Regions from separate parts of the Homo sapiens genome. Here region 2 is linked to region 1. A link means that fine-mapping ties the variant in region 1 to the expression of a gene that starts in the linked region. Tissue or cell type: blood mononuclear cells. Region 1 holds a variant in brackets; the other region holds the start of a gene. All regions are shown on one strand. Distances are from middle to middle.

What was found. PIP is the estimated chance that this variant, and not a neighbour inherited with it, causes the effect.
Region 2: PNMA6A starts here. The variant in region 1 is fine-mapped to the expression of PNMA6A in blood mononuclear cells (TOPMed, PIP above 0.99). The same link has a PIP of 0.9 or more in tibial artery.

Annotation. Positions count from the first base shown.
Region 1 is chrX:153,104,364-153,107,044 of GRCh38, forward strand. No RefSeq gene overlaps it. Among named protein-coding and RNA genes, the nearest start is that of PNMA6A, 33 kb to the left of the region's middle. The variant G/C (reference allele first, on the strand shown) is at 1,481.
Region 2 is chrX:153,071,297-153,073,977 of GRCh38, forward strand. It overlaps PNMA6A (PNMA family member 6A), which reads left to right and starts at 1,158. Exons shown (of 2, transcript NM_032882.6): 1 at 1,158-1,310; 2 at 1,639-2,681. The coding sequence starts at 1,767.

The sequences.
Region 1 (2,681 bases):
CATTTAAGTGTTGTGTTCCACTTATGTGCTGTGGGAGGAACCTGGTTGGGAGAAAATTGAATCATGGGGTCAGTTTTCCCCATTGTGTTCTCGTGGTAGTGAATAAGTCTCACGAGATCTGATGGTTTTATAAGGGGAAACCCCTTTCACTTGGATCTTTCATTCTTTCTTGCCTGCCACCGTGTAAGATGTGCCTTTCACCTTCTGCTGTGATTGTGAGGCCTCCCCACCTACATGGAACTGTGAGTCCATTAAACTTCTTCTTTATAAATTACCCAGTCTCAGGTATGTCTGTATTAACAGTGTGAAAATAGATGAAGACAGTAAATTGGTACTGGTAGAGTGGGGTGCTGCTGTAAAGATAACCAAAAATGTGGAAGTGACTTTGGAACTGGGTAACAGGCAGAGGTTGGAACAGTTTGGAGGGCTCAGAAGAAGACAGGGAAATGTGGGAAAGTTGGGAACTTCCTAGAGACTTGTTGAATGGCTTTGACCAAAATGCTGATAATGATATGGACAATGAAATCTGGGCTGGGGTGGTCTCAGATGGAGATGAGGAACTTGTTGGGAACTGGAGTAAAGGTAACTCTTGCTATATCTTAGCAAAGAGACTGGTGGCATTTTGCCCTACCCAAGAGATTTGTAGAACTTTGGACTTGAGGGAGATGATTTAGGGTATCTGCTGAAAGAAATTTCTAAGCAGCAAAGCATTCAAGGGGTGACTTGGGTGCTGTTAAAAGCATTCAGTTTTAAAAGGGAAACACAGCATAAAAGTTTGGAAAATTCGCAGCCTGATGATGCAATAGAAAAGAAAAACACATTTTCTGAGGAGAAGTTCAAGCTGGCTGCAGAAATTTGCATAAGTAACAAGGAGCCATATGTTAATCCCCAAGACAAGGGGGAATATGTCTCCAGTGCATGTCAGAGGTCTTCATGGAAGCCCCTCCCATCACTGGAGATAGTGAGGATGATAGGATGTGGATGGCAGTGCAAAGGAAAATGTTACAGATTACCCTACTGTTTCTAGCTTGGCACTTGGGTTGGAAGGTGCCACCAACAGAGACAGGGACTATGGGAGAAACCACATGGTGGAGGGATGAGTTGGTTTTCATCATGTTGGTGTTGAATTGTCATGGGGCTATTCAGGGAGTCTTTGGAACCATGAAACTGGAGCCCTCTTCTATGATCTTCTGAATATCAGTTTCTTGGCTATTCTATTTCTCTTTTTCCATGTTGCCACATGCCTCCTGCACCTGTTGTGATTCACAACAGAGGGTCATCTCTCTCAAGATAGAGAACTACAGGCTAGGCACAGTGGCTCATGCCTGTAATCCCAGCACTTTGGGAGGCCAAGGCAGGCGAATCATTTGAGGTCAGGGGTTAAGTGGCCCAGGGAGGCAAACTGCAATCTTGAAGAATCTCTCAGTAACTGGTTTCCTGGGCCACATAACCTTTCTAAGTCTCTCTCTCTCTCTCTCTC[G/C]ATTTGTAAAACAGGAACAATAATACTTACCTTATATGTAAGTGACATGCGGGCAGGTACTTAAAGTAAAGCAGTATATGAAACCTTCTAAGATATGAGGAAGCAAGAAATGACACTCGTGGTTAACAATATTCACTAGAGTTGTGTCTGTGTGTGCATGTGTGTGTGTGTGCACATGGTTAAAACGGTAAATCTTGTGTTATGTGTAGTTCACTACAATTAAAAAAAAAAAGACAAGGAAGTCAGTCACAAAGGTTCACATATAACAGGAAGCCATTTCTATGAAACGCCCAGAGAGGTAAATCCATAGAGACAGAAAGTGCATTTGTGGTTTCCAGGGGCTGGGAGGAGGAGTAAATGGGGCGTGACTGCTAATGGGAGGAGGAGTCTTTGTGAGGATGATGAAATTCTTTTTGGAACTGGGTAGAGATGGTGGTTGCACAACATTGCAAATGTACTTAATGACACTGAGCTGTACACTTTAGAGTGGTTAAAATAGTAAATGTAATGTGATGTCTATTTCACCACAGTGAAAGCAACCCCCACCCCCGCAGTGTGCTGCAGATGTGCACCTGCAGGCAGGTGGTGTTTTCGTTCCCCGTTGCTGCCGTAACAAATTATCACAAACCCGCTGCTTCAAGCAACACAGATCTATCGTCTTACAGTTCTGGAGGTCAGAAGTCTAAAATAGGAAGTTCTAGGGGAAGAACCCTTTTCCTTGCCTTTCCTGTCACCTTGAGGCTGCCTGAATTCCTTGGCTCTTGACTCCTTCCGTCTTCAAAGCCAGCAACATCCGGTTGAGTCCTTCTCTGGCGGCATCATTCTGACACTGACTCTTCTTCCTCCCTCTCCCTCACTTAAGGACCCTTGTCCTTCAAGTGTAAAGACCTGGCCAATCCAGGATAATCTCCCCACCCATCTCACATCTGCCCAATCGCTATTGTCATGTAAGGTAACATATGTGCAGCTCCCAGGGGTTAGGCCACGAACATCTTTGGGGGCTGTTACTGTGCCACCACAGGCAGTAACGAGCTGAGTCTTGTGCACCCTGCTCAAGGGCTGGGTCCTGCAGATGAGGTGAGGAGATACTTCTGGCATCCTTATGGCTCCCTGTTTGATTCTGGGGGGGCCCCTAGGCAAAGGCCAGGCTCTGCTAATCTGGGCCAGGAGCTCTCCTCTCTGCTCTCCCTGACTTCTGTGC
Region 2 (2,681 bases), 33 kb before region 1:
CCTGCCTGGTGGAGATGCTGTTCACATGGCCCCAGCCTCCCATGATGGGTCAGGTGCAGGGTGGTCAGATCCACGGGCGCAGAATCTCTGTTTTGAGCGGAGGCTGCTCTGCCCTGGCGCAGTGTCTAGCCCCGGCAACAGAGGACTGGGGAAGGACCTATGGAAGGCTGACTCAGGCCCTGACAGACGGAGGTCTCCAGGGAGGTACGACACCCATGCTGCCCTCAGGGCCAAGAGAGCAATGTCCCAGAGCCCATCAGGCTGGTGAGGGCACAGGGGGCAGGGGACAAATTGAGTAGCCCACTCCGCGCGGACTACCTTTCCAGGCACACACTCAGGCAGAGACCCAGACTCGGGACTTGCGGCTGCAAAACGGACGAGGCCCGGGCATACTTGGGTGCTGGGTCACCCTCCTAGGTGCTGGCTCCTGGCACCAGGGCAGCAAAGTGCTTCGGCCGGAGGGCTGCGGGTCCCTGAAGCCGGATGGGCAGCGGGGAGATGGCAGACCCTCCGTAGGATGGTGTGCGTGAGCTGCGTGAGCGCCTGGGGCATCTCCTCCACGGAATGGCACCCGCACCAGGTGCCCCTGGCCTCGCCTGGCCTTGCCAGCCAGAGGACCAGTCCTGGACGGGGAGGGGGAGGACAAGAGCAGGTGCACAGGCCCCAGAACCCGGCTCCCTGACCCTGGCCAGAACGCAGAGCTGCCGGACGCACCTCAGACCACTCCCTGGCCCTCTGGTGGGCACGCCGGGGTGCACACCCGTCGCCCCGCTGGCGCCTGCCTCCGGGGCACGTGCGGGAGGGGCAGAGGCCTGGACCAGGAACCGCTGTGGTGAGAGCCAAAGGCGCTGGGACCTGCGGCCCACAGACCTTTGGACACCCCGGTGGGGGTGGGGGTGGGCTGGCGCCTGTGTTCCCGGGACCCGCGGCGCGAGGGGAGTGGGGGTGGGGCTAGGGGATAGGAGCAGGTGACGTCACCCGGGGTCCTGGGGCGCTCGGGAAGGCGGCGAGAGCCAGGCCACGTGACCCGCCCGCGGCAACGGCCCTGCGCTCTCCCGGGCCGGCGACGCGGAGGGGTCCGCGCTGCACCGCCGCCGCACCCCGGCCGCGTGACCGCACTGCAGAGAGCGGCTGCGAGCAGGCGCCTGCGCACCGGCCCAAACGCCGAGCGAGCGAGGGAGAGGCACAGTCAGAGGGAACGCCCGCGCGGGGAGCCAGGGGCGCCCGACCCCGCCGCCGCCGCAGCGGCGCGCAGCCCCCGACGCGCCCTGTGGGGACCCGGACCAGGAGGGACCCTGCCCCGGGAAAAGGTATCAGACCCACCCGGGGAGGGGGACGCTGGGTCCCGGGAGACTCCGCCGCCCCTCGCCTGTCCGCCCTAACAGAACTGAAGCAGCCTGCGGGGCAGCGGTCCGGGGTCCGGGGTCCGGGGTCCGGGGTCCGGGGGCGGCGCGGGGATGAGGCCAAGACCCGCAGGGACCACCCCCCCGGGGGGGCGGGGCGGGACAGGGGCGGGGCCTGGCTGCAGAGGCGCGGCCAGGGGAGGAGGGCGGCTGGGGGTGGGAGTGGACGTGGACGTGGACGTGGGCGTGGGGAGGGGTGGGCATTAACCTCGCTCTCGCCCGCTCGCATTCACAGGCTGTGGAGACCTGGGCTCCGACCCCAGTTCATCCCCCCACACCCCCGCCGCCCCGTGCCACCCTGGTCCGCGCTGGGAACCCTATCCTGCCCCTCGTGTCAGCCCGGCACTGGCCAGAATCGCGGGCATGGCGGTGACCATGCTGCAGGACTGGTGCCGGTGGATGGGGGTCAACGCTCGCAGGGGCCTGCTCATCCTGGGCATCCCGGAGGACTGTGATGATGCCGAATTCCAAGAGTCCCTCGAGGCTGCCCTGAGGCCTATGGGACACTTTACAGTGCTAGGCAAAGCGTTTCGAGAGGAGGATAATGCCACCGCGGCCCTGGTCGAGCTCGACCGGGAAGTCAACTATGCTTTGGTCCCCAGGGAAATCCCCGGCACTGGGGGCCCGTGGAACGTGGTCTTTGTGCCCCGTTGCTCAGGCGAGGAGTTTCTCGGTCTCGGTCGCGTGTTCCACTTCCCGGAGCAAGAGGGGCAGATGGTGGAGAGCGTGGCCGGCGCCCTGGGTGTGGGGCTGCGCAGGGTGTGCTGGCTGCGATCCATCGGTCAGGCGGTCCAGCCCTGGGTGGAGGCCGTGAGGTGCCAGAGCCTGGGCGTGTTTTCCGGGAGGGACCAGCCAGCCCCAGGGGAGGAGTCCTTTGAGGTCTGGCTAGACCACACCACCGAAATGCTGCATGTGTGGCAGGGGGTCTCGGAAAGGGAGAGGAGGAGGAGGCTGCTGGAAGGCTTGCGTGGGACCGCCCTGCAGCTCGTGCACGCGCTCCTGGCGGAGAACCCCGCCAGGACGGCGCAGGACTGTCTGGCGGCCCTGGCCCAGGTGTTTGGAGACAACGAGTCCCAGGCGACCATCCGGGTGAAGTGTCTGACCGCTCAGCAGCAGTCAGGCGAGCGTCTCTCAGCTTTCGTGTTGCGGCTGGAAGTGCTGCTGCAGAAGGCCATGGAGAAGGAGGCCCTGGCCAGAGCATCCGCCGACCGCGTGCGCCTGAGGCAGATGCTCACCAGGGCCCACCTTACTGAGCCTCTGGATGAAGCACTGAGGAAG